7 linked regions of the Homo sapiens genome follow. The protein of the gene in region 1 purifies or fractionates together with the protein of each later gene. This does not show direct contact. Each region holds a gene or a part of one and is shown in the gene's direction. Other genes may lie near its edges.

The links.
Region 2: the proteins of GINM1 (region 1) and TNFRSF10B purify together in Homo sapiens (affinity purification with mass spectrometry; 3 studies listed by BioGRID and IntAct, with this or other methods). This does not show direct contact.
Region 3: the proteins of GINM1 (region 1) and CSGALNACT2 purify together in Homo sapiens (affinity purification with mass spectrometry; 3 studies listed by BioGRID and IntAct, with this or other methods). This does not show direct contact.
Region 4: the proteins of GINM1 (region 1) and LRP11 purify together in Homo sapiens (affinity purification with mass spectrometry; 3 studies listed by BioGRID and IntAct, with this or other methods). This does not show direct contact.
Region 5: the proteins of GINM1 (region 1) and KIAA0319L purify together in Homo sapiens (affinity purification with mass spectrometry; 3 studies listed by BioGRID and IntAct, with this or other methods). This does not show direct contact.
Region 6: the proteins of GINM1 (region 1) and NDFIP1 purify together in Homo sapiens (affinity purification with mass spectrometry; 3 studies listed by BioGRID and IntAct, with this or other methods). This does not show direct contact.
Region 7: the proteins of GINM1 (region 1) and HS6ST2 purify together in Homo sapiens (affinity purification with mass spectrometry; 3 studies listed by BioGRID and IntAct, with this or other methods). This does not show direct contact.

The regions. Positions count from the first base shown.
Region 1 is NC_000006.12:149,569,118-149,573,197, forward strand, and holds part of GINM1 (glycoprotein integral membrane protein 1 precursor), read left to right. Parts: intron 1-3,167; coding exon 3,168-3,227; intron 3,228-3,389; coding exon 3,390-3,486; intron 3,487-4,080.
Region 2 is NC_000008.11:23,023,856-23,027,935, reverse strand, and holds part of TNFRSF10B (tumor necrosis factor receptor superfamily member 10B isoform 1 precursor), read left to right. Parts: intron 1-182; coding exon 183-214; intron 215-647; coding exon 648-803; intron 804-3,675; coding exon 3,676-3,748; intron 3,749-4,080. UniProt on the Homo sapiens protein: Receptor for the cytotoxic ligand TNFSF10/TRAIL. The adapter molecule FADD recruits caspase-8 to the activated receptor.
Region 3 is NC_000010.11:43,151,821-43,155,900, forward strand, and holds part of CSGALNACT2 (chondroitin sulfate N-acetylgalactosaminyltransferase 2), read left to right. Parts: intron 1-3,076; 5' UTR 3,077-3,329; coding exon 3,330-3,990; intron 3,991-4,080. UniProt on the Homo sapiens protein: Transfers 1,4-N-acetylgalactosamine (GalNAc) from UDP-GalNAc to the non-reducing end of glucuronic acid (GlcUA). Required for addition of the first GalNAc to the core tetrasaccharide linker and for elongation of chondroitin chains.
Region 4 is NC_000006.12:149,857,585-149,861,664, reverse strand, and holds part of LRP11 (low-density lipoprotein receptor-related protein 11 isoform 1 precursor), read left to right. Parts: intron 1-4,080.
Region 5 is NC_000001.11:35,438,404-35,442,483, reverse strand, and holds part of KIAA0319L (dyslexia-associated protein KIAA0319-like protein), read left to right. Parts: intron 1-147; coding exon 148-238; intron 239-1,345; coding exon 1,346-1,437; intron 1,438-4,080.
Region 6 is NC_000005.10:142,128,940-142,133,019, forward strand, and holds part of NDFIP1 (NEDD4 family-interacting protein 1), read left to right. Parts: intron 1-2,868; coding exon 2,869-2,956; intron 2,957-3,272; coding exon 3,273-3,403; intron 3,404-4,080. UniProt on the Homo sapiens protein: Activates HECT domain-containing E3 ubiquitin-protein ligases, including NEDD4 and ITCH, and consequently modulates the stability of their targets. As a result, controls many cellular processes.
Region 7 is NC_000023.11:132,948,332-132,952,411, reverse strand, and holds part of HS6ST2 (heparan-sulfate 6-O-sulfotransferase 2), read left to right. Parts: intron 1-4,080. UniProt on the Homo sapiens protein: 6-O-sulfation enzyme which catalyzes the transfer of sulfate from 3'-phosphoadenosine 5'-phosphosulfate (PAPS) to position 6 of the N-sulfoglucosamine residue (GlcNS) of heparan sulfate.

The DNA.
Region 1 (4,080 bases):
CCTGGGTTCAGGTTCAAGTGATTCTCCTGCCTCAGCTTCCCAAGTAGCTGGGATTACAGGCTCCCGCCACTGCGCCCAGCTAATTTTTTTATATTTTTAGTAGAGATGGGGTTTCACCATGTTGGCTAGGTTGGTCTCGAACTCCTGACCTCAAGTGATCCACCCGCCTCAGCCTTCCAAAGTGCTGGGATTACAGGTGTGAGCCACTGCGCCCGGTCACTTTTTTTTTTTTTTTTTGACGTGAAGTCTCGCTCTGTCCCCCATCCTGCACAGTGCAGTGGTGCAATCTCGGCTCACTGCAGCCTCTGCCTCCCGGGTTCCAGCGATTCTCCTGCCTCAGCCTCCCAGATAGCTGGGATTACAGGCACGTGCCACCATGCCTGGCTAATTTTTGTATTTTTAGTAGAGACGGGGTTTCACCATGTTGGCTAGCTGGTCTCAAACTCCTGACCTCAGGTGATCCACCCGCCTCAGCCTCCCAAAGTGCTAGGATTACAGGCATGAGCCACCATGCCCGACCGAAAAATAAAAGTCTTTATAGTAAATTCTTCTAATACTAAAATAACTTGGTCACCAAAGAGAGGCATTCGGAGGACACTTACTTTCTTGTATGCATAACTGTATATTTCGCTCAGACGTATTTTAAACCAGCTGTCTATTACCTTTATTCTTAGGAAGACACTTATGTCCCCAGTGGGCATCCTATGAGTAAAGGAATTAGAAGAATTGAAGATTTTTAGGGAGAAACTTTTCAGTGTCCCCAAGCACTTTTTAAGTATATGCAACCCTGGCTTACGAGCCTGAACTTCCAGTTCAATCAGAAGTTCTCAAGAACAATAAATATGACCTGGCTCTGAACTCCTGGCCAGGGGGCAGTAAGGAGTGTGATTCCCTTTTGCAGTGAAATCATTCAGAAAGACCAGAAAATAATTTTGTTGTACTTGGTTCTCTGGAAAATATAGTGTGCTTGTGTCTGTTAATTGTCTTTTTCAAACTCTGTAATTTTACTAGGTAGGTTTTATATATATATATATATATATATATATATATATATATATATATATATATATATATATATATAAAGTTCAGTAACTTGCTAACAATATAGTGTTCACTGCTAAAAGGCAGAAGCTATAAAATGGTTTCCTAGAACAACATTGGAGGCTTACTTCTGGGCTGTTAGAAGAATAATAGTTTATAATTAATACATTCTCTAGTTTGCAAAGGAGATCCATATGACTTGAATTTGGACACAAAACAATGTAGCTATCAATCTCATAGCTCATTGAATGTGGATTTGTTTTAGATGCACTATTGGTTCTAACCGTCTAGATCAAGGTGAGCCAGGAAAAAGCTGGCTAGTTCTGAGGAATTTCTAGTTAGAAAGCTTCCTAGGCTCCTAGTTGGGAAGTGAACCAAAGTCACCCTAAATGTATGATGTTGGTCTTGTGTGGTATGAATCCTCTTTCACAAATTATTCCTGGAATCAGCTCGACCTCATGAAATTTCATCAGTCTTATTCTCTCATTTGTGGGAAATTATATATAAAGTATTTAGGATACTCAGGGCCAGCAGATATACTTGTATATTCTTTTTGATGTTTATGAACAGTTTTCCTATTTTCTAAGTTAATACAACCTCAAAGAAAAAGTATTTGAGAGTATTGTTTTTATTCCAGAATAACAATGTCTATTTGTGAATAAACTTAGGAAAGAATTTGATTTAGAAATGATAGATTGTAGTTCCTGTGGTCAGTGGTAAATACTTCTTAAAATAGTGCTTGCTTCTGTATATAAAGCATGTCATCTTCAATATTTGGGTATCCTGCTTTTGATAATACCTTGAGAGGCAATAAAATTGGAGCATTACAGATGCTTGTATAAGAAACACACTCAAGAAAGGGTCAGTGCAACTTTGGTCAGGTGCGGTGGCTCACGCCTGTAATCCCAGCACTTTGGGAGGCCGAGGTGGGTGGATCACGAGGTCGGGAGTTCGCAACCAGCCTGACCAACGTGGTGAAACCCCCGTCTCTACTAAAAATACAAAAATTAGCCAGGTGTGGTGATGCATGCCTGTAATCCCAGCTACTCAGAAGGCTGAGGCAGGAGAATCACTTGAACCCGGGAGGCGGAGATTGCAGTGAGCCAAGATCGCCACTGCACTCTAGCCTGGGCAACAGAGCGAGACTCCCTCTCAAAAAAAAAAAAAAAAAAGTCATTGCAACTTTATTTATAAAAGGAAAAAAGTTGGAAACAACTCAGATGTCCGTGGGTAATAGAATAAATAAGTAAATTGGTAGTCAGAGATGGACTACTGTGATTACAGCTATGTGCATCAACAGTATCAACTACAGTTACGGAAGAATACATGTGTACTGTTATCCCACTTACATAAAGCTCAGAAACAGATAAAACTAAGCAACATATTGTTTAGAGAGAGAGACACAGGTAGTAAAACTATAAAGAAAAGCAAGAAATGATTCAAATGGAATTGGGTATAGGATTCCTTCTGGGGGGATAGAGGGCAATCATGCAGAGCCTGCCAAGGTAGGGGTAATATTTTATATTTTATCCTCGGTGGTACTTACAGGAGTGCTCATCTTTTAAACTCTATATTTGCATATTATATACTCATGTGATACTTTTCACAAGTAAATAGAAAAAGTATATATTATAAAAAATTAGACCGGGCGCGGTGACTCACGCCTGTAATTCCAGCACTTTGGGAGGCCGAGGAGGGCGGATCACGAGATCAGGAGTTCAAGACCATCCTGGCCAACATGGTGAAACCCCATCTCTACTAAAAATACAAACATTAGCTGGGTGTGGTGGTGCATGCCTGTAATCCCAGCTACTCGGGAGGCTGAGGCAGGAGAATTGCTTGAACCCAGGAGATGGAGATTGCAGTGAGCCCAGATTGCGGTACTGCACTCCAGCCTGGCGACAAAGTGAGACTCTCAAAAAATAAATAAATAAATAAATAAATAATTGGAATTGTAAATAAGGGTGGAAAAATGGCTATAAAATGGAAAAGATGATCTTTTAAACTCTCTTAATGCTGTTATAAGTGATTGTACAATAGATACAATTGGAGGGAAAAGAGAAAGCCACGTTGTTCTCAATCTGTGAGATGCACACCTTCCAATTTACACAATACTTGTTTTACAGGACGGCATCAGAATTAATGTAACTACACTGAAAGATGATGGGGACATATCTAAACAGCAGGTTTGTCTCCTTTTCTGGTTTTAATATATAATTTAGCTAAGTGCTATGCAGCTTATTTGATTTTTTAACTTGCACGTCTCATTTAGTTAATCTTTTTTGACTTGAAGAGTTTGCTATTGTTTATAAATATTGGAATTAATGTATATGCTGCTTTATTTTAAGGTTGTTCTTAACATAACCTATGAGAGTGGACAGGTGTATGTAAATGACTTACCTGTAAATAGTGGTGTAACCCGAATAAGCTGTCAGACTTTGATAGGTGAGTATTACTAAATTATTTCCATAATTGCTCTGTTTTTTGTGTGTTTGTTGTTGTTGTTGTTGTTGTTTGTTTTTTGAGACAGTCTTGCTCTGTCACCCAGGCTGGAGTGCAATGGTGCGATCTCAGCTCACTGCAACCTCTACCTCCTAGGTTCAAATGATTCTCATTCCTCAGCCTCCAAAGTAGCTGGGACTGCAGGCATGTGCCACCATACCCGGCTAACTTTTGTAATTTTAGTAGAGACAGGGTTTCGCCATGTTGGCCAGGCTGGTCTTGATTGAACTCCTAGCCTCAAACCATCTACCCTCCTCTGCCTCTCAAAGTGCTGGGATTACAGATGTGAGCCCCTGTGCCTGGCCTGTTCTGTTTTTAATAATACTAAATTAGCAAAACAATTTTTGGATGTTATATATTTCCATTTTAAAGTAAAAATAGGCTGGGTGCAGTGGCTCACGCCTGTAATCCCAACACTTTGGGAGGCCGAGGTGGGCAGATCACGAGAGGTCAGGAGTTTGAGACCAAACTGGCCAACACGGTGAAACCCCATCTCTACTGAAAATGTGGTGTGTGCGCCTGTAATCCCAGCTACTC
Region 2 (4,080 bases), on another chromosome or scaffold:
TCCCCTTCTCATCCCCCTTCCTCAGGGTGTCTCTGAGTTGTAAGGCCCCATTCTGTCCCCAGCCCCAGGGCTCCTTGTCCAGTGTCCCAGCCCCCAGCCCAGCCCTGCGCCCCACTGTCCTCTGGGAGGGGGGTGCTTCATGGGCCCCTCCCTTCCTGCTAAGGAGACTGCTTCTTTTTTAGGTGGTGGTGGGGACCCTGAGCGTGTGGACAGAGTGAGTTGATTTCTCCAGGAGCTGGGGGCTCAGGGGTTCAGGAACTGCTTCCTGGGACAGCAGAACCTGGGTGGGTGGGTCCCCATTGTCCTCATGGCTGCCCTGACTCTCTGAAGTGGCCTGGGTGCTCTGGGCTGACTGTGGGGGACACATGGCCATTTTGAGCACCACATAGGCTGGTGAGCCCTGCTGCAGCCCAGGTGACATCCTCACCCCACAGCCTGCACCCTAGGGATGGGGTGTCTGCCTGAGCACAGCACTGGGGGCCTGGCCCCAGCAGCGGGTCCTGGATGTGCTGAGTCTGGGCTGCCTGCGGTGACCTCACTGAGAGGGGGTGGGGATGTCAGGTGCAGCTGCATACTGAGGACCCTGCAGCGAGCCCTAGGTGTGGACTCCTGAGTCGGCTTTTTGCCTTCCCAATGTCTTTTTCCAGAGCTCACAACGACCTGGGGCTGAGGACAATGTCCTCAATGAGATCGTGAGTATCTTGCAGCCCACCCAGGTCCCTGAGCAGGAAATGGAAGTCCAGGAGCCAGCAGAGCCAACAGGTGTCAACATGTTGTCCCCCGGGGAGTCAGAGCATCTGCTGGTGAGTGGGGGACAGATCATTTTGTTTCCTGGCATGCTGCTCACCTGGGATTTCGTAGACAGTGGGAGAGGGCAGTGCCTTAGCTCTCCTGGCCCAGGGGAAATGGAACCTGAAGGAGCCAGGGGACTGCAGGGGATGGAGCAGCTGCACTGAGGTGGTGACCGTGCCAGTCTGCAGGACATCTGCTTCTTACTCCCTGTCCTGTCCTTGCTGTGTCCCCCGAGCCTGGAGCTCCACAGGCATAGAGTGGGGGTCACAGGGTTCATTGATGAGTGAATAAGGCTGCACAGTCTCCATCGTATGCTCCTAACAGAAGTCAGTGAGCCCTTGCTTGTAACAGCAGGAGTTTTAAATTTACTCTGAAATTGTTATTACATTGAACATATTTCAAAGTTCGTAGGGCAGCTTCCAAAAAGTAGGATTCCAAGTCGATGCACAAAGGGCTTTTGTATTGGACACACGCACACAATCAGTTCATATCAATCCATCAGTTTTGATGTGATATTGAGTAGGCAGGAAATCTGTATATACATTTATTGTTCATTGCTCGTAAGCACTGAAAGTCCTTCCCTCGAACATAAGATGAGACTATCCAGTTTCCTGCAGTGTTTTATTTTTAATGATTTGATTTTTAACATACAGCAATATAATCTAAACAGAATTGAATTTTCGATTCAATATAAGCTGAGAAACTCCCTGAATTATTCTGAGTCTCTGTTTCCTTCTTCCAAGCCCATTTAGCAACCAATTCTTCCTTTTTCCCTTGCCTTTGCCCTTTTGCCACCTCCTTTGCTACATGTCAAATGTTTACTTTTTTCTCTCTTCCTCTTCACTCTTTTTTAAAAAAACAAACAAACAAAAAAAAACTAGATCTTATCCTTGAAAATGTCAAATGTTTATATGGGCAGAGATCTCTTCCACCTAGACTGTTTCTGTTTCTTCCTTGCATCTGTACCACTTTCTTTTTAAATAAAGAGAAGAGATTTTAAAAGGAAACAAATGAACAATGCCAATACTTCCTCCATGCTTATTAATGACTTTGAAGATTTTTTTTTTTGAGACAGGATCTTGCTCTATCACCTGGGCTGGAGTGCAGTGGCACCATCTTGGCTCATTGCAACCCCTGCCTCCTGGGCTCATGTCATCCTCTCACCTCAGCTTCCTGAGTAGCTGGAACTATAGGCATGTGCCACCGTGCCCAGCTAAGTTTTGTATTTTTTGTAGAGACGAGGTTTGGTCATGTTGCCTAGGCTGGTCTCGAACTCCTGAACTCAGGCAATCCACCCTCCTTGGCCTCCCAAAATGCTGGGATTACAAGCATGAGCCACCATGCCTGGCCTGATCATTTTTTGAAAGCAGGTCACCCATAGCCACACATCCACCAGAGTATGAAAAAACTTGATCATACCAAGAGCCTTCTTTACTCTTTCCCAGCCTTTTGGCCCTTCTTATTTCAGGTAACTACAGTGGATAATTTCTTGTGATTCTTTGCTAAACTCTTTATGCATATACCATCTAGGTACATAAATGCATATGTATTTATGTGGTATTGACATGAAAAGGATTATATCATGTACAACACCAAACAAAACTGTCTAATATGTTTTAATATCTTAGACAGCAAATATGTTTTCAAAATTATTTTTACACATCTTATAATTTAGAATTAGATAAAATTTAGAATTATAAGATTTTCTCTAGTACCCCTCCCGCCCACATAGTCACTAGACTTTACAAATATTAATTTAAATTAATACATGGTTCTAGGAATGATTGACATCCTTTCAACATTCAATTTTATTATCAAAGAAGATAATATTTCAAGTCAAGTGTTCTATTATGACTCAATCGAGATTTGGGAGTTTATTTCAGATAAATTTTTCCTATTCCTCATCAAAGCTGTTTCTTTGCATTTTGGGTCTTCTTGTAAGTCCATTTTCTAATTTATTATGTCTGCTGCTACTTTTCTTTTCTTTCTTTCTGAGATGGGTCTCACTCTTGTCACCCAGGCTGGAGTGCAGTGGTACAATCATGGCTCACTGCAGCCTTGACCTTCTAAGGCCAAGTAAGCTCGGACTTACCGGCTTCTGAGTAGCTCGGACGACAGTTTTGTGCCACTACACCCAGCTTATTTTATTTTATTTTATTTTATTTTTAGAAACAGGATCTCGCTATGTCGCCTAGGCTGGTCTCAAACTCCTGGGCTCAAGCAGTCTTCACACCTCAGCCTCCCAGAGTGCTGGGATTACAGGTGTGAGCCACCATGCCTGGCCTCTGCTATGTGGTTTAACATTCATCAGGGCTAGGTGCAGTGGCTCACGCCTGTAATCCCAGCACTTTGGGAGGCCGAGGCGGATGGATCATCTGAGGTAAGGAGTTTGAGACTAGCCTGGCCAACATGGTGAAACCCTGTCTCTACTAAAAATATAAAAATACGATAAAATAATTAGCTGGGCATGGTGGTGCACACCTGTAATCCCAGCTACTTGGGAGGCTGAGGCAGGAGAATCTCTTGAACCCAGAGGTGGAGGTTGCAGTGAGCCAAGATCGCACTATTGCACTCCAGCCTGGGAGACGGAGTGAGACTCTGTCTCGAAAAAAAAAAAAATCATCAAGACATATTCACTTTTGAGTATTACAAATTAAACCTTGGGGTTTTAAAAATATACACTCCTAATCTAAAATATTGACTGCTGTATCGGCCTCCTTCCGAGAGTCTTGCCCCTTTGTCTCCTGTCTTGTTGCCAGACCTTTCAGAACAATGTTCTGGAAGTGACGTGCTGCAGGTCTCAGAGCTGGCTGGTGGTCGGGGTCAGTACTGGACTGTAGGACTCCTGGCTCTGACCAGGACATTCCCCACTATGTGTTACAGGAACCGGCAGAAGCTGAAAGGTCTCAGAGGAGGAGGCTGCTGGTTCCAGCAAATGAAGGTGATCCCACTGAGAGTAAGTGTTTTGCTCCTGGAGATGCAGCAGGAATGGAGGGAATAGGGACAGGGTCCTAACTGCTGTCCCCAGAGGTCAGAGGGCTCTTCCAGAGTATTCCATGCTGGAAGCCGTGGGTCCTGTGCTATAGACCATCTGGACCCTAAACTGTCTTCTCCCATCTCTTCTCCCCACTCTACCTCATCCTCTCTGCACCCTATCATTGACCCTAATGACTCTGTCCGTCCCCTCATCCTCTCTCCTCCTTTGTTCAGGGCCTGATGTAGCCCCCGCCTGCCCCTGAGGACCTCCTGAGGGGCTGGCCTGTCCTGCACAGCACCACTAACCCCAGT
Region 3 (4,080 bases), on another chromosome or scaffold:
TTTCTTGTTTCTCTGGGGATCACTGTCCTTTGTTACCTGATGTTAAATATCTTGAAAATCATTGTTTCATATTTTGGGTTTGTTGGCAGGAAAAGTTGTTTGTTTGTTTTTGGTTGTTTCAAGACAACCAAAGAGAGCAAATCTGAGAGTAAATCTGGCCCGTTACTTCATCTTGGTCGTAAAAGGAAGTCAGTTTTTTAAGCAGTTTTAGAGAGTTAGAATTGATGGCTTGTAAGGTTTCTTTCAATCCTGAGATCTTTGGCTTCATATTACATACCTTTAACAGCTTATTTTCCCATCTTCACATTATCCTTTTCTCTCCTCAAAACACTTAACTATCTGCATTTGTGCTTAGAAGGCTTGTTGGGATTAACTCTGGGCTGTGAATGAACCGTATTCATGATACAAACACATTTCATAGAATGATGACAATCAAGATGTAACAACAGAAAAATGTTTTCTATAATATTCTTAATATATTTATATGATAGAACAGCTATAATGTAATCTTCTAGATTATGGCCAAAGAGTTTCTTTCGGGAACTAGGCAAATAAGATTTTAATTGAAATCTTTCATTTTTAATAACCACAGAATTATGCAACTTTTACATTCTGAAGTAATTACAGTATCCTTTCATTTTATTGGAAAATATTCAACTGTAATATTAAGTAGGATATCTCAAAACCTGTATTTCCCTTAAAGGGAAGAGGAAGAAAAATGACCTTAGCTTTTTAACACTGCCACTGATAATTTCCATTCTATTTTATTGAAAAGTAAACCTTCAGTAGTGACCTATTGTCTGAGTTATAGCTCATAGTCTAAAATACATTGTGTATATAAAGAAAACATATGAGGTACCATATTAATAAAAGATAGTGGTAGTTCTGTTACCCAGTTTCACTTCAGTTTTGAGTATAACATGCTTAAGTATGTATATCTTTATTAATTAAAGTATGTATATCTTTATTATACAAGATTATGTCTCCACATTTTCAGTTCTTTTTCCTAATAAATGGGCTAGTAATAGTTAAAACAGATACCGCTAGGTTTATCTTTTAAATAATGAAATTCAAGTGTTTTCTTATGCTAGGGATTATGGTTTTGAGGTATGGTTAAGTCCTGGAAATAATACTAGTTATTTTTTGATTAGATGGTATTTCTTAAAGCCAACTATTTTTTTTCTGTTTTTTTCTACATCACTCAAACAAGATTTATAATCAGTAAGAGAGATGCTGTAATAGTAAAAGACTCCCTTGGCCAGGCGCGGTGGCTAATCCCAGCACTTTGGGAGGCCGAGGCGGGCGGATCACGAGGTCAGGAGATGAGACCACGATGAAACCCCGTCTCTACTAAAAATACAAAAATTAGCCGGGCGTGGTGGCCGGCGCTTGTAGTCCCAGCTACTCGGGAGGCTGAGGCAGGAGAATAGCGCGAACCCAGGAGGCGGAGCTTGCAGCGAGCCAAGATCGCGCCACTGCACTGCAGCCTGGGCGACAGAGCAAGACTCTGTCTCAAAAAAAAAAGGACTCCCTTGTAGTGAGTTAAATTTTTCAAGATACTTGGTTATCATTTCGTTTACTAAAATAATAAATGACTAAGGAGAGTTAAGACCATTATTTGTGGTATATTGGCCATAAGAAGTTTTCTTCTGTCCTATGTTTTATACAGACATGTTACCAAAAAAAAAAAAATACGCATTGCAGCATTTGCCACAGAAAGCATCCAGGTTTTTCTACTCATTAAAAAAGTGGCTAGGACTGATAACCTGTAGTGATCTTCCAGGTTTTGCTGCAGTGAGAAAACCATTACTGTTAAAAACCTGCTGTCATATCACATTATCCTTCTCAACAAGCACTTTGTTACAATGGAAGTTCTCTTTGCAGTGGAGTCCTCCTTGCCTCCCTTGTCCTAAGTTAAACCTCTATTTTTAGAGTTAAGAATCATTAAAGACATGGAAGAGTTCGCACAACTGGTTGTGGCATGAACGATAGCATGTAATTTTATAAATGTATAAATGGTTTTTGAATTTTTTTCTCTGCTGATAAGGATGATTAAATTCTTCATGTTTTTTCTTTATATAGACTCCAAACCTTTCTAGACTTGTAGGAAATCTGTTGATGCATAATACAGTGGAAAGAATTATGTGATCTAATGTGCAAATAATCTACTGGAGGACATTGGATATAAAAATGTTTTCTTAATGTGTTTTTCAGATGTCTGTGAGCTTTTGAAGTTGTTCTTTCCCCCACTTAATTTTAAGTCTCCTAGATTGGCTGAGCTGAGCAGTAGAAATTAATGAGGTAGAATGCTTGAGTTGAATAAACTGGGAGAAAATCTCTCTCTCCAGTAAACCGTTATTACTGTAACAGAAACAGTTTCTATAAACTCAGTTCCCAAATGGTCATAAGCTTTAGTTGGGAAATGGTGCGGTAATTGAAATACTATGTTAATAAAGAGTTATAGGCAATATAATTTTCAAATAATTAGAGAACAGTAGAATATATGTAATACAGACTATGCTGACGTAATTTTAATGTTTCTTTGATTCAAGTTATAGCTGTGTAGACATAATAGTTAAAAGTATTATACATAGTTTATTGTTTTTTAAGGTATTTTAAAAAATTCTCCCAGGCCAGGCTCAGTGGCTCACACCTGTAATCCCAGCACTTTGGGAGGCCAAGACAGGCAGATCACCTGAGGTCAGGACCAGCCTGGCTAACATGGTGAAACCTTGTCTCTACTAAAAATACAAAAATTAGCTGGGAGTGGTAGGCAGATGCCTGTAGTCCCAGCTACTCAGGAAGCTGAGATGGAAGGATCACTTGAACCCAGGAGGCAGAGGTTGCAGTAAGCCAAGATTGTGCCACTGCATTCCAGCCTGGGTGACGGAGTGAGACTCCATCTCAAAAAAAAAAAAAAATTCTCCTAGTATTTACTGAATATTCTAAATTATATTAGTACCTCTCATAGTTCTCTGCATGTAGTAGTCACGTAGCTAAGTTTACTGAAGCCACAAACAAATTTGATATCCTTAAGGGAACAAAATTCTGATTGATTCTGATCTGTGTCTTTCAGAAAAATCACTACCAATATAATGGATTTTATATATCAGATTGCTTTATTCTGGATATCATGGTAACAATACAGAAAGTATACATAATTTCCCATTTCTGCAAGTAGTCATGACTGCTGAAGAAAGAAAAACTTAAAGCTACGGCAGAATTATTTTATGGAAATTCTGATTTTGTTTTTAATTTTTGATAACTTTTTACTAAAGGTATGAACACACAAAGAGCTTATTTTGTTAGGCAAATACACATTAATAAGAATGCCTAGAAGAGGACTGATTCTTCACACCCGGACCCACTGGTTGCTGTTGGGCCTTGCTTTGCTCTGCAGTTTGGTATTATTTATGTACCTCCTGGAATGTGCCCCCCAGACTGATGGAAATGCATCTCTTCCTGGTGTTGTTGGGGAAAATTATGGTAAAGAGTATTATCAAGCCCTCCTACAGGAACAAGAAGAACATTATCAGACCAGGGCAACCAGTCTGAAACGCCAAATTGCCCAACTAAAACAAGAATTACAAGAAATGAGTGAGAAGATGCGGTCACTGCAAGAAAGAAGGAATGTAGGGGCTAATGGCATAGGCTATCAGAGCAACAAAGAGCAAGCACCTAGTGATCTTTTAGAGTTTCTTCATTCCCAAATTGACAAAGCTGAAGTTAGCATAGGGGCCAAACTACCCAGTGAGTATGGGGTCATTCCCTTTGAAAGTTTTACCTTAATGAAAGTATTTCAATTGGAAATGGGTCTCACTCGCCATCCTGAAGAAAAGCCAGTTAGAAAAGACAAACGAGATGAATTGGTGGAAGTTATTGAAGCGGGCTTGGAGGTCATTAATAATCCTGATGAAGATGATGAACAAGAAGATGAGGAGGGTCCCCTTGGAGAGAAACTGATATTTAATGAAAATGACTTCGTAGAAGGTAATGTGAAAAATATGTTGGTCAATATTATGTTAGTAAGACAAATGCTAGTATTGTATGCTGGTATTGTATTGTAGTATTGTACTGTAG
Region 4 (4,080 bases), 290 kb from region 1:
GCGCCTGTCTATGATCCCAGCTCCTCGGGCGGCTGAGGCAGGAGAATCGCTTGAACTGTGGTGGTGGAGGTCGCAGTGAGTACAGATTGCGCCACTGCACTCCAGCCTGGGCAACAGAGGGAGACACTGCCTCAGAAACAGAAACAAAAACTTCAGGTTACTATGAGAAGTTTCTGGGTTGTTTTTCCTCTTGCTTGCTTCGTTGCCCTTCCTTTCCCCAGGGGAGTTTGTCTAGGAATTGTTTTGTAGATGTTTGGGATGAAAATAGGCGAGCGCGGTGCTGGTCCTCATTTCTGGGAGAACACTGCTGTGCTCAGACTTCCTGAGGTCCCAGCAACATGGAAACGCGGAAGGTGCGGCTCAGGTTCCTGTAGAGGCTCATTTGTTCTCTCTGCGTGGAGGTCAAAAATTGTTCCCCAGTGTCCTGTGTGTCCCCTGCTCAGATGCTTGACAGGTTGAAGTTGTTTATGCTTCAGAGACTAAGTTTTTCCTTCTTGAATTGTTCGTTTTTGGGTTGTGAGCATGTGAAAATGGTTTAGAAGAGCCCTTGGAGAGGAGCTGTGACTGGATCCATCTGAGGTGGATGAAAGCACCATGAAGAAATGGTGATGGGATAGCACGAACTTACAGCAGGACACACCAGCCCTGTTTTCATGCCCACATTTGTTGACTTTGGTGTTAGGTGCTGTCCTCAGCCCTTTGCACGCATGAACTCACTCTGTCCTCACAACAACACAAAGGCCTAGGTTCTGTTATAATCCCTAGTGTATACAAGGCTTGGCAAGCGAAAGTAACCTGCCCAAGGGTCACACAGCATGGGGTTGTGGAGCCTGAACTCCTATGCTTTCTCCAGCAGCACCAGCAGAAGCTGAGAAAGGGATCACTAGGCTGGGACTGCGAGGGTAGAGGTAGGGAAGGCGGGAGGATGCAGGAATGAGTGAGAGATGCTGGAGAGAGGTGTCTTGTAGTGACTGAGCCTGCCTGCTAGAATCTGTAGAACAGAGGAGGGTGCTTGAAGTTCTGGGGCCTGGCGTCTCCACAAACAAGTCCCTGCTCATGCCCCCAGGACTTGGTGTCTGCTTGTCCTCCATCCCAGGCTGTCGTGAGGTTCAAGGGGGGACATGCTTTGTGAGTTAGGAAGGTGGCACGCATGTACATGATACTGTTCTAGGAACCTGGTTGGGTCATGCCCATGACTAGAGGGTTGGGGGACTGGATGTCATGATAAAAAGTGAAGAACAGCAGGAGGGAGGGAGGGAGGGAGGAGAGGTAGAAGCTAGAGCTGCTAGGATTCCAGAAGAGCAGGGAATATAACCTCCAAGGACTCAAGGACGATAACCTTTATGTGGTTTTTGCTGGATATTCAGCCTGAAGTCCAGTATCTCGGGGAAGAATTTGGGAAGTGGGCCCCTTGCCTTGTGTGTCAGGGAAAATCAAAGCTATTAGGCAGAGGTCTGCTCTCCTCTCTGCAGACCCACCTGCTGCCACCCCCAGCCTTTCCCTGTCTCCGCCAAGTGCAAACAAAAGAGTTGACCTTCCCATTCAAGGTTAATCCCTCTGCAGATGCTTGACCACTCTCCCTCTCCAAGGGCCTTACTTTCTCACATTCTTATCTTCTCCCTTTTGTGTTATAAACAATTATATTTAATAAATAATAGTAAGATAACTGGTTGGCAGTGTCAGGGAAAGTACATTTAGACCTACAACTCTGACCATACACAAATTCCAGATGGATTAAAGAATTAAATTTTTTTTAAATTAAGCCATAGATTACTCCATACATAAAAAAACTTAAAGGAAGTAAACTTCCATATCTGGAAGGAAGACAGGTTTCAAATCAATTAAAGAGGTCACAAAGAAAGGGGATAGATTATATGCACATTTATAAAAAACTTCATATCAAGAAACAAAAGGAATTGCAAACAAGAGTCTGGGAAAAATGTGACATTATTTATTCGTAGAGTTTATGGGCCAGGCACAGTGGCTCACACCTGTAATCCCAGCGCTTTGGGAGGCCAACGCAGGTGGATTGCTGGAGGCCAGGAGTTAGAAACCAGCCTGACAAACATGGTGAAACTCCATCTGTACTAAAAATAGAAAAATTAGCCTGGTTTGTTGACACACGCCTGTAGTCCTAGCTACTGGGGAGGCTGAGACATGAGAATAGCTTAAACCCTGGAGTCGGAGGTTACAGTAAGCTGAGATTGCAACACTGGACTCCAGCCTGGGCGACAGAGCAAGACTCGGTCAAAAAAAAAAAAAAAAAAATATATATATATATATATATGAGTCAGCAAGAAAAATAAAAATAAATGGGCAAAGGACATGAGCAGACACTTCCCAGAAGAGGAGGTATGGTGGATAAACATGGAAAAATGTTCGACCTTAGAATCAAAGAAATGTAAATAAGGCCAATTTTCATTTATTAACTTGGTAAAAATAGGTTTACTCATATTGGCATGCATATGGGAGACTTCATATACACTTCTGTGCTCACCGATGGTGTAAATTGCTACTTCCCTCTTGGAAACCAGTTGGGAAATATGTGGCAGAGACCATTAAAATATTCATTTCATACTTCTGGAATATTTTTTAGGAAAAGGAACCATGCTGAAGAGAACATATGAGCAAAAAAGTGTTTTACTCATATTGACATGCATATGGGAAACTTTATATACACTTCTAGCTCACTGATGGTGTAAATTGGTACTTCCCTCTTGGAAAGTAATTGGAAAATATGTGGCAGAAACCATTAAAATATTCATACTTCTGGAATATTTTTTAGGAAAATCATCTATGCTGAAGAGAACGTATGAGCAAAACATGTTTATTATGGCATTATTTATAATGGTGAAAAAGTAACAAAGTAAATGTCCAGTAGTACAGATTAGGAAACTCAAGTGGCAATTGTGAAGCTTAGGTTATCACATGGGCAGTGCTAAGATATATGAAGAAATATCAATAACAGGAATATACCAATAAGTTGATGGATTAAATTCAGGATGTAAAATTATATTTATTGTAACTGGAATACACCTAGGGTTGTCTCGAAGTATAGTGGAAGGATAGAACCTTTGAGTTAGAAATAACTGGGCTGCATTCCTGGGTATATATTCAAAGGATTATAAATCATGCTACTATAAAGACACATGCACATGTATGTTTATTGTGGCACTATTCACAATAGCAAAGACTTGGAACCAACCCAGATGTCCATTAATAATAGACTGGATTAAGAAAATGTGGCACATATACTCCATGGACTACTGTGCAGCCATAAAAAAAGGATGAGTTCATGTCCTTTGCAGGGACATGGGTGAAGCTGGAAACCATTCTCAGCAAACTATCACAAGGACAGAAAACCAAACACCGCATATTCTCACTCATAAGTGGGAGTTGAACAATGAGAACACACGGACACGGAGGAGAACATCACACACCAGGGCCTGTCGGGGTGGGGGTCAAGGGAAGGGATAGCATTAGGACAAATACCTAATGTAAATGACGAGTTGAAGGGGGCAGCAAACCAACATGGCACATGTATACCTATGTAACAAACCTGCACGTTGTGCACATGTACCTTAGAACTTTTAAGTATAATAATAAAAAAATAATTAAAAAGAAGTATCTGATCTGACAAATTTATCGCCTGTGTGATGTAACTTAGCCCTCTGAGCCTAGTTTCTGCATCAGTATTATGCAGATGATAATACCTACCTCAGAGATTCGTTGTGAAAGTTAAGTTCTTTCTATAACTTCACCTGGCCTGGTACCTGGTACAAGGAAATTGTAACCGCCCAATGGGTTCTCCTTGCCCACTGCCTACACAGAGCTGATTTATCAAGACAGGGGAATTGCAATAGAGAAAGAGTTTAATTCACAAGGAACTGGTTGTGCGGATAAAACACAAGACCAGATGAGCCAGTTTATCAACCTAGGTACTGCCAACGGGGTGCTGCCAACCATCGAGGACAGGGTCTATAAAATATCTCAAGCACTGAACTTAGGTTTTATAATAGTGATGCCTAAGCCATAATTTCTAATCTTGTGGCTTATTTGTTAGTTTTGCAAAGGCAGTCC
Region 5 (4,080 bases), on another chromosome or scaffold:
CCCTTAACTCCAAGGTCTTACCTTCCTGGGGAGCCTGAGGCATTCTTGTCTCCAGAGTGAAGCCACACCTGCCCAAGCTGGGAGCAGCCCAGACCTCCCTCCCAGCCTCTCCCTCCACAGCCCTCACCATTTTGATTTTCTTGGCAGAGTGGAGCGTGTTATATGTTATCATTGCTACCTTTGTCATTGTTGTTGCCTTGGGAATCCTGTCTTGGACTGTGATCTGTTGTTGTAAGAGGTAAGATGGATTTTCCTTTGAAATTCATTCGGGCTTCTTGTCATACATTCGTTCCTCAGAGAGGTATTTGGCACCTTCCACGTGGAAGGACTGGGCTGGGTCCTTAGTCAGCATTAGAGAGTTCTGACCCACCTAAGGCATGCACGGGCAGCTTTGCTCACCCTGAGACTCTCCTGAGGGCAGAGGCACACTCCTTCAGTGAGTGGCAGCCACTGCAGTGATTTGGAACCTGGGAAACATGGCTGGGCGGGAGCAGGGCAAGGTGGGGGAGTGAGCGTGAGGGCCAGGGGTACAGACCCGGATCACATCTGTAAGGTGTGTTTTCTTTAATGCACCACACTGTAGCCTCACCAGCATAGCCCGCGAGTTTTTAATTCTGCCTTCTTTCTAGTTGGGATTCATGAGTGTGCATGTTTCCACACATGCACTTTAGGCTAGCCAGGCTCAGGCGTCCTGTGTTTTTTCATTTGAGTCTTCCTATTGAGTCTTCTAAGATGGAATGGTTACATTTATTTTATGTTTTCATTATTAATAATATTATTTCTGTGTATACTGTGTGCCATAATATTTTTATAGGTAATATCATTTTTAAGACACATAACCTTTTCCCATTTTACAGATAAAAAAACTTAGGCTCAGGAAAGGTACATCACTGTCTGAGGACCAGTTGATAGTGACAGAGCTGAGATTCAACTTTCAGTATAACCTCTTATAAAACTTAGAACTAAAGGAATTTTTAAAAATTCCCACCAGTCTAAGACAACCACCATTACCAACTTTGTTAGTGTAATGCCTGTCTCCTCCCACACCCTTCAAGCAGAGGATTTTGTTTTCTTTACGTTTTTAACCAATCTGTCCTTCATTGCCCCTGTGGGATGGTGAGTCCGTGCCAAGGTGGTCATAGCTCCCTTGCCCTTCTCCAGAATTGCTGAGGAACATTTGAGGAACAAATCACAGTTGCCACCTTTCCTGGCTGAGAAGTGAGGAGAGGACACCCCTCTCAGTAGGTGCCCCACCAAAATAGGGCCCTGCATGCACATCTGGCTCTCATCCTCATCCTCCCAGAGAACCTCTTTCCTGAGCAGGGGTGGGGGTTGTGTTTTTTAGGCAAAAAGGAAAACCCAAGAGGAAAAGCAAGTACAAGATCCTGGATGCCACGGATCAGGAAAGCCTGGAGCTGAAGCCAACCTCCCGAGCAGGTAGGGGCCCTGGGTGCCAGAGCTTCTAGGTCTGTGCACTCTCTCTGTGGAAGGCTGCTGTCACTAGCCCCTCCTGAGTGTGTCACTAACAGCCCACTGTGCTTGCAAAGCATTTTGTTCCCTTTTGCCTGATGAAGACTGAGGGTCAGATTTGCCCTGAGCTGCACTGGACAAAATGCCTCCAGGACCCACTTCGCGTGCTACTTCCGCTTGGCGGGGGTGCTGGGCCTGTTGTTTTCCTTTGCCTGGGCATTCTCCTCATGTTTCCCACCTGGAGTTCCGCTTTTCCAACTGCCCCAGGTAGTCAGGGTCAGGGACCTTGGACTTGTCTCTTACTGCTGACCAGTCTGTGCTTTATGGGCAGAGATGAGACCCAGGCCCGTGTCTGCCAGCTGACCACCTTTCAGCCAGCCTTGTTCTCCTGTCTTCCTATCTTTATCATTTGGCAAGTCCTCAGCTTCTGTCAGTGTCTTAGGGCAGATAGGAGGGCATTTCCTTGCACAAACAGTAAGATGACTTTGAGTGATGGCACTGGGAGATCAGGGCAGGTAGTAGGCCTTCCTTCCTCCGCTGGGCTGGGTCACCTGGCGAGGGTTTCACTCATCATGGATGCCATGGGACAGGTATCATTGGTTTATGAGAGCTAGACTCTATAAAGCGATTCCTAAACACTCTGCAAGTAGAACTATTTTTATATAAAGCATTTATTAAACACTTTTCATGCTTAAAGCTTTGTGTTAGGGAGAGGCTATGGGGGTATAGGGAGTCATCAGACACAGGCTGTGCTCTCAGTCTAGTGAGGGAGAAAAGACACACAGTAGCAGAAGAGAACAGGCTCACAGCAGTCTGGACTCTGCACCAAGCAGCTCGATCCACCAACACTGTCAAGGTGGAGACTGGAGGTGGTGGGGCTTGAAATGAGCCCAGGAAACCAGAGCAGTGAGGGCGGGCGGGGCATTTCACCCAGGAATATTGAGAATGAGGGCCTGGAGGTGAAATGTGCAAAACCCACCCCTCACACTGCAGCCAAGGTTTTTATCATGTTACTCTGATCATGTTTTTCACCCCCTGACATTCTTCAATGACTTACTATTTCTAGCACAAAAAGCTAGAACTTTTGGTCTGGTAGATGTGGCCTTTGTGAGCTTACATCAGTTTGCTTTTCTGGAATCTTTCTCTTTGCTGATCTCCCTCTTTTCTAAACAAGTTCTTCTGGTTCATCCAGTAATCTCTTTCTTTTTTAAAAATGTGGCGACAAGGTCTTGCTCTGTCACCCAGGCTGGAGTGCAGTGGTATAGTCATAGCTCACTGCAACCTCCAGCTCCTGAGCTCAAGTGGTCCTCCTGCTTCAGCCTCCCAAAGCAGCTGGGACTACAGGCATGCACCACCATACCCAGCCCTAGAAAGCTCTTTCTTATCCCTCCCTTAACCTCCTCAAGTTGTGCTCACCTTTCTCTCACATGCCTGGGTCGGCATTTCTCTCGCTGTCTCATGATTAGTTATGTTTGCCTGTCTCCCCACCCATCAGTGAAATCCCTGAGGGCAGGGGCTGTCTCATTCATCTGTGGATATGGAGCGGGACCACTATGTGCCAGGCCCTGTGCCAGACACTGCTTATATTGTGGTGAATCAAACGGACAGACTTCACTCTTGTGTAGCTTATGTCAGACAGACATTAAGCAAACTCACAAATACATAAAATATGCTCATAAAAGGCCTTTATGAAGAAAAACACTTAAGCTGAGACCTGGATAAGTGGGAGCTAGCCAGATAAAGCTGCAGGAAATAGCATTCCAGGCAAAGGAACAAAACTGGTGCAGACCCAGCTGCTAGAAGGAGCAGAGAGCATTTGAGGAGGTAGAAGAAGGTGACATGATGGACAGGTTCACCTTCCCACAGAGTAAGGGGTGAGTGACCCAAGGCTCAATGGATGAGCAGGGTCCCTGCTGAGGACTTCTCTTGAGTACAATGGGGAGCCACTGATAGCTTTTTAAGGGGATGAATGGTGGGATTTGGTTTACATTTATTATTATTTGAGACAGAGTCTCACTCTTATCACCCAGGCAGGAGTGCAGTGGTGCGATCAAGGCCCACTGCAGTCTTGACCTCCTGGGCTCAGGTGATCCTTCCACCTCAGCTTCCTAAGTAGCTGGGACCACAGGCATGCGCCACCATCCCCAGGTTTTTTTGTTGTTGTTGTTGTTGTTTTGTATTTTTGGTAGAGACGGGGTTTCATCATGTTGCCTAGGCTGTTCTTGAACTCCTGGGCTTAAGTGATCTGCCTGCCTTGGTCTCCTAAAGTGCTGGGATTATAGGTGTGAGCCATGGCACCCGGTCTTGGTTTATATTTTAAAAAGACAACTGTGTAGCTGGGCGTGGTGGTGGGTGCCTGTAATCCCAGCTACTCGAGAGGCCAAGGCAGGAGAATTGCTAGAACCTGGGGGTGTGAAGGTTTCAGTGAACTGAGATCACTCCAACCTGGGCAATAAAGCCAGACTCTGTCTCAAAAAAAAAAAAAAAAAAAAAAAAAAGATAACTGTGGCTGACAGATGCAGGGGTTGGAGGGGAAAGGCTAGCTGAAAGGAAGTTAGATAGAATGTCCTTGGGGTTGAGAGGCAGATAGATTCTAGATACATTTTTGAG
Region 6 (4,080 bases), on another chromosome or scaffold:
CTATCTTATAAATATTGTCATAGAAGACCTCTTAACCTCTTTGTTCTTTGGATTTCTGTATTTCTTAGAATTGTCATGCTTCCTTTCTGAGACCTAAATTATGCAGGGGTAACGTGATTACTTTGACACCAAGCTCAGGAAATATAAAACGGGTTAAGTATAAACCAAGCTAGGTTTAAATGAAGTTCATTACTGGCTACAGTATATTAAGGGAACATATTCGAAAAGTCTGTATTTGCCTTTGTTCTTGCTGCTGACTCTTCTGCTTCTTTTGGTGACCTTCCCACAGCACAAGAGTGGTTAGGTGTGAGGAGGCTAAGAATACCTTGCCAAGAGCTTCAAATAATGTTAAAACCAGTATTTTAGGTGAACCATGGTCCCAAGAACTCTATTTAAGTAATTCCTAGTTCGGTGTCCCAGGAGCATTTGGCTTTACTGCACCTATTTTGGCCACATGTCTTTGTTTAAAAGGAAAAATTATCTTAGGTTATAATACAGCTATTTTGGGAGTACCTTAAGTTTAACATTAGATTACTAGGATTCGAAAAAATGTACCCAGATGGTAGATGCTGATGAGAATTTGACACAAGAATTCATTTGAAATTGAAGCTTTTGTAGTATTAGTCAGAAAAATTTATTGACATCTGGTTTTGAACAGCATAGTGAGTGGAGATTGAGATGATCAGTTAAAATTTAATGGATTGTGGCCGGGCACAATGGCTCACGCCTGTAATTCCAGCACTTTGGGAGGCTAAGGCAGGCATATCACCTGAGGTCGGGAGTTTGAGACGAGCCTGGCCCACGTCTACTAAAAATACAAAAATTAGCCAGGTCTGGTGGCATACGCCTGTAGTCCCAGCTACTTGGAGTCTGAGGCAACAGAATTGCTTGAACCTGGGAGGTGGAGGTTTCAGTGAGCCGAGATCCCACCATTGCTCTCCAGCCTGGGCAACAAAAGCGAAACTACATCTCAAAAAAAAAAAAAAAAAAAGAAAGAAAGAAAATTTAATGGATTATGGAGCTCTACTTCACATTAGTACACCTCGGTCTCTCTGTTTTTCTGTCTCAATTCAAGATAGAGTTCTTTGTAGCGGTATGGTTTAGAGGTGGTATGTATTTTACAAGTATGTCAGTTGGCTCTGTATATCCTGATGATACCGAAGCCAGGACCAGACCCCTACGTCAGTTATATCACTAAATATTCTGTTATTAATTTTCAGATTGGCTCCTAGTCCCAGCCAACTCATGTTTTAAATTAATATAGTTCATTGTCACACTGGACTGGAAAAACCAAATGAAATGTCTTTATTCTATGAAGATGACTTGTGTAGACTATACAGACTAGCAACAGCAGACACTTTCAGTGCGAGTTATTTTAAAAAATTGAAGATTTGACTGGCAGAAAAGTTGCTGAGATAGGGAAAAGGGATATCTATTGACAGATATATGTAGAATTAGGGAGAATTTTATGTTTTCATAAGTGTCTCAATTATTTAAGATTTAATTTGGTGTGCATGTGGAATATAATGGTAACATGGTTTGTCTGTGATTTGTCTTTTGTCTTAACAGATTATTTTTCTAACTTTAAAAAAGTATACATCACTTGAGGCCAGGAGTTTTAAACCAGTCTGGGCAACACAGGAAGACCCCATCTCTACAAAACATAAATTTTAAAAAAAGTTAGCCAGGGTCACAGTGTGCCATAATTGTGCCACTGCACTCCTGCCTGGACAACAAGAGTGAGATCCTGTCTCTCCAAAAAAAAAAAAGTATGCAAGTGATAAATATTCACTACAAAATATTTGAACATGCAGATACACAACAAAAAGGAAAAATTCCCCTGTACTCCTATTACCTAGAAATAACAGTGTTGAACTGTAAATGTCTCATTCTAGGCCTCCTTTCCATTATATGTCTGCCTTTTTAAAAAGGATTATATGATGCCTATTGTTTGGCAAGTTTAGCTTTTTTCATGTAATAATAGTACACTGTAAATATCTATTTGAGTAATGAAATTTAATTTTTTTTTTTTTAAAGACATGGTCTCTCTCATGCCCCAGGCTGGAGGGCAGTGGCACAATCTTAGCTCGCTGCAGCCACGACCTCCTGGGTTCAAGCCATCCTGCTGCCTCAGCCTCCTGAGTAGCTAGAACCACAGGTGCATGCCACCACTCCCGGGTAATTTTTGTATTTTTTGTAGAGACAGGGTTTGTTTTGCCATGTTGCCCAGGCTAGTCTTGAACTCCTAAACTCTCCTAATCTCAAGCGATCCCACCCACCTAGGCCTCCCAGAGTGCTAGGATTACAGGTGTGAGCCACCATGCCTGGCTGAAATTTAATGTATATTTTTTTTGACACAGAGTTTCACTCTGTTGCCCAGGCTGGAGTGCAGTGGCACCATCTCAGCTCACTGCAACCTCCGCCTCCCGGGTTAAAACGATTCTTGTGCCTCAGCCTCCTGAGCAGCTGGGACTATAGGAGTGTGCCACCATGCCTGGCTAATTTTTGTATTTTTAGTAGAGATTGGGTTTTGCCATGTTGGCCAGGATGGCAAAATTTAATTTTTAATGGCCGTTTAGTAGTCCTTTGTGTGATGTACTATAATTTATTTGTCTCCTATGATTGGAATTTAGGTTGTTTCTAATTTTTGCTGACACAACACTTATATGTACCCATTTTGCCTCTTTGAATATTTCCATAGAATAACTTCCTGGGAGTAGAATACTTTTCTTAAAGGATTTGTGCATTTCAAGGCTTTCAAAATACGTTGCCAAATAGCTTTCGAGAAAGGCTATTTATTTCAGTTTTTGGGTTCTTATCTTTCTAATTGGCTTTATGCTTACATTAAAATATGAAATTTTTATTTAGTTGCAGAATGAAGAAGAGTCTGGAGAACCTGAACAGGCTGCAGGTGATGCTCCTCCACCTTACAGCAGCATTTCTGCAGAGAGCGCAGGTAGGTAACAGGGCAAGGTGATCACGGAATCCTTAAAAACACTCTGTGCTTTGACATTACAGTTTAAAAAAAAAAAAGCTTCAGAAGCAGTTGGAAGAAAGGTTACAAAGCAAGTCTGGATTTTAAATAATTGAGAAGTGGATACATTTAAAAATCACCCCCAGTCTCTTACATTCATCTAAGAATGTCTTTTGGTTCAATTGTTATGTATGTACTCTTAAGGGAATGGCTGGGTTTTGTCTGCTAGAGTTAGTGGAACTCCTTTTATTTCAATTCAGCTAATCATCAAAAAATTGTGACTGTTAAAATTCTGCAGCATATTTTGACTACAAGGATGAGTCTGGGTTTCCAAAGCCCCCATCTTACAATGTAGCTACAACACTGCCCAGTTATGATGAAGCGGAGAGGACCAAGGCTGAAGCTACTATCCCTTTGGTTCCTGGGAGAGTGAGTATAATTTGCCATGTTACTTGATGGCTGCTCTGTGGGAATTAAGTTATTTTCATTATCCAATTTTGATTCGTTACTTATGATTGTATTGATTAGTGAAAGTAGAGCTAATTTTAAAAATCAGGTACATTTGCTTTTGGGATAATAAACTCATCTCTTCTTAAAAATGATGAGGTAAATTACTAGTCAGACCTGCTCATTTTTCCTTCATCTCTCCTATTACCACTACTTTTTCAAGTCTCCTGGGATGGCTGAAGTATCTTGAAGCAGAAGCACACTAATGTTTCCTTGATTCTGCACACTTAATATTTTGCTGTTGGGTGGATAGCTGCTAGGGAGGTCTAGGAAGAGAATAAATATATGCAAATTTGTAGAATTAAACTCATAAGAGGGATCTTCACATTGATTTAGATGAACTCCGTTCTTCCAGCAGTCCAGATCATGTCATTTGTGGGGACATAGTGAGTTCAGATTCCATCTAGCCTGATGTTGATTCATGGAGGTGGAGATTGGGATGCCATATAAACCAGTGGAGATTATTGGGCACTCTTGGTTCTTGATGTCAGATATGTGAGTGCTGCATTTGTCATTTTGTAAATATTCATCCAGATTGAGGCTGATGAAGGTAGGGCATTGTGGGAGAATGGAAGCAGGATAAGTCCCCAGAAATGCGG
Region 7 (4,080 bases), on another chromosome or scaffold:
GTCAGTACTGGTCGTGTGGTTCATCAGGCTCTAAGCTGTTGGGCTCAGTTTTACTTAGCTGAGGATACATTTCTTCAGCTGTCTTTGAGAGCTGTGGTACCATCTTAGCTATTTCATAGAAGAGGGGGAGAAATCTACCATTACAATATCTGTAGAATTCCAGTAGTATTAATTAGCATCTTTGCATGGATGTCGAACATGGTGTTGGAGTCCTTACAAAGCTGTAAGTTCTCAGGTAGTACAAAAGGCTATTCAGAATTAACATCACTTAATAATAATTTTAGATCAGTGCTATGGGGCAATTAAAATGCTAGAGCTTGTCTTTCATGGATATCAGTCATCAACTGAGGTAGTATGTAATGACATTAAAAGAATAGCCATCCGTTTTTTTCTGTCATTCATTAAGCAAGATTTTGTGAAACTGTTCATTATATTCCAGGGAAGAGACATCATTCTCTGTCTCACAGAGCTTATGGTAGAACAGAACAATTTAGTACTTTAGATATTTAATTAAAAAATGGATTTTGTTTGAAAACAATTTGAAAATCAATAATGTCTTTAAAATGTCATACATTTACCAGAATATACAAAAAATAGACAAAAGTCCATCTGTTATGTTGTAGTTTGGGTCTAATCGGCAAAGCAGATGGAGTAACTATTATGTCTCTGGCATGGTGCTAGCAGTTGTGGGGAGATTAGAGCCAAGAAGAAACCAAAAAAGCCAAGATAACCATCTTCAGCCTCAAGTCCATAAAGATTAGCATGTGAAGTGCAGGACTATGTCATGTAGACAGGTGCTGGGAGAGGAAATTTAGATTTTGGACAGGCCCTTTTCCTTCCCTTGGTCTCAGTGTCTTATCTATAAAATTGGAGATTTAAATGACATGCTTTCCAGGGCCCTTTCCTTTCTAAAGTATGAGGAACAGGCCAGAAAAAGGAGACATCCTTTTGAGAAGGCCTCTGGGAGTAGGAGAGTTGTATTAAGAAGAAAGGAGGCATTGTGGGTGGGCACGGAGTCCTCATGACCTTTTGAGGTCCAGCAACCTCACCTAGGCAGGTCTGGCCAGACCCGAAAGGTTCATGCTTGGAGTAATAATGGTTAGGGAAGTAGATGGGGTTAGGCTCCACTGTGGAGGACTTGAATGGCAATGAGGAACCCCAGTAAGTATGAGAAGCTCTTGGATGGAAAGAGTGCAAAAACACCATGAAAGTAAATAAAGGTCGGAGTCTAGGTAAAGCTATCTCCCTGATATCTAGTCTGGAATGTAGGTGGTACCAGCCACCAAAACAGAGAGGTTGAGAAGGGGATCTGGTTCGGGCTGGAGAGTACTAAGAAGTCATGACTGGTTCCTGTTGCCTAGATTTCTAGTGGACAGGACTTATAAGGAGGTGACAACTGGGGCTCTGGGGCAGGTTAGGGCTCCATCGTACATTATATGTGGGAATCTGTGGACCCAGTTAATCTGAATTCACAATTGGCGTTGTTATTTAAGTGATAGCTGCAATTCACATATGGGACTCTTAGCCAAGGAAAAGGATGTTTGAATAAAGGAAAAAAGATCAATAGTTATGATTACATAAGAATAAGATATGCTTATCTGTCAAAAAAAAGCCAAAACGAAAAGGTTTCAAACTGGTAATAATATGCACAATTACAACAGACACAAAGTTGAAATCTTTACTGTACAAAGAACTCTCACGAGCTGATTAGAGAATCAAAGGACATGACCAGACAATTTACAACATAGGACCCCCAACTAGTTTGCAGACATGGAAAAACTGTTTTATTTCACTGGTACTAAAGAAATGCACATTTAAACATAGAATACTTTTTTTGCCTCTCTAACCCTGATTAAAACAAACAAACAAACAAAGCAAAACCCAACATATATCACCACCAAACAAAAAAAGTAGACAGTGCTGACAAGGGCATGGTAAATATCAAAATTCTCATACATTGTCAGTGGGAATGTAACTTGAATGATCTTTTTGGAAATAAATAGTGTAAACACAGAATATAAAAATATTTATTTCTATGACCCATAATTTCTTTTCTGGGATTTTGCAGAAAAACATACTTTTATACATGCTTTCATTCATTCACTCATTTATTTATTGATTCAGCAAATATTTATTGAGTATCTGGTATCCCTGTGCTATGTGCTGGGGTTACCGGGAAGAACCAGGTAGATGTGGTCCCTGCCTTCGTAGGAGTGGGAAAGATAGACAGAAAACAAATTATCAATTACTTAAAATTATATGAAGTGCCATGGGGGAAAAGTACAGGATGCTATGAGAACACATACTAGGAGACTAACTGGAGTTATCATAAGTGCAACAAATTGGAAACAATCTGAACATCCACATGGAGAAGAATGGTTCAAGAAATCTCAGTACATCCACTTGAAAGATTATTACAAAACCACTTAAATGTCCTTTGATAGAGCATGGAAAATTGCTAGTGATTTAATGCTAAGAGAAAAAGAGATAGAAAATTATGGACCCAGTACGACTACAATTATATTAAAGAAAAAAAGATAGCGAGCGAGCGAGCGAGAGAAATCATCTCCTACCCCTCCCAAATCTAAGCATAAAAGACAGAGACTGGAAGAAAAAAATAATAGAATATAAATAGATCTATTAGTGATTTATTTTCTTATTCTGCTTTTCTGAAGGTTTTGAGTTTTCTTTGAGTCTACATTACTTATATAATAACAATAAGCATTAACAATTTTTAAAATAATGTTTTACTAAGCTGTGATTAATTGCACACAGGTCTACTTTTTTGGTTCCTGGCTGGTTATTTCATTAGCCTCTTGATATCCTGGGAGCCTTTAATGAGGAGAGTAGCCTCAGCCCTAATAAACCCTCACCCTGAAAGGCAGAGGTGATGAGTCAGACATTGGCTGCTGATTTTCGATAACTGACTTTTATCATATTCCCACACAATGCATGGAACTCTTTTTATACCAGTATGGTATAGAGCTACTTGAGTGAATTGCTATTGTTTCTTTCTCATTTATAAATTATAAATTTTAATTTATAAATTATATGGAACAGGAAGTTAATAGTGGTACACAGTTGGAAATATAAAGCTTATTCTGCTCAGCCAGAGCCATCCGAGATAGTCTGGACTTTGGATCTCCATGAGCTTCTTTCTTAGTGAGTTGACACCAGGGCTGATGGTCTGGCTGGAAGAGTTAAAATCTTGGGGTTGGTAAAGGGCTATAGTTCTAAACATCCATAACTGGGAGCTTAGATCAGTTAGTGTATGTGTTGCTCTCGTCCAGCAGAAAAGGAGAGTTCACTTTGCTAAGCAGCGCCCCCTAGAGAAGTTTCACTGCATAAGAGTATTACCCCCAGTTAACCATAAATAAAGTTGATTAGAAATGTCATTGTCCAACTATTCCAATATCTGAGGGACCACTCTATGCACATATAGTGAGGTGCATAATCTTATTGTTGAAACTCCACTGAAACTACACCGTAGGTACAAGTTGTTTTGACAGTGTAAAGAATGTCCCTCACAGTTGAAAAGCTAATATTAACATTCTGTGACACATGAAATGAGGTATTTAGTCACTGAGTTTAAAAAGAGATGTATGGATGGGAATTTCCCCCTTTCCATTAAAGGATAATGAATAATCCACTTAATGGCGTATGTCCTCTAAAACAGTGTCCTTGTAAGCTTAGATAAATATTTGTCTAAACTTTAGTAAAATATTTATTGGCAAAAGAGCTTTTCTCATTTACTAGGTATTGAACTTTGCAGATTATTCAGTTGGTCTTATTGCATCCCATTTGTTATTTCTGCCATTTTGCCTCTAAAAACTGTGCTGAAGACTTTGACACATTTCAGAGCATTACACTAAATAAATCTGTCTTGCACATTCCACTGTGCTTTTTCTGGAATATTATAAATATTCAAATATAGGCACACACGCCGATTCAAAATACAATTTAATACATGCAAATTGTGCATAAATTCCATATTTATAACTTGGCAATAGTTTCGAACTTGTTATCCTATGATATAAATGTATCAAATAGGAGCTCATGGGAATTATCAATAAATGTATT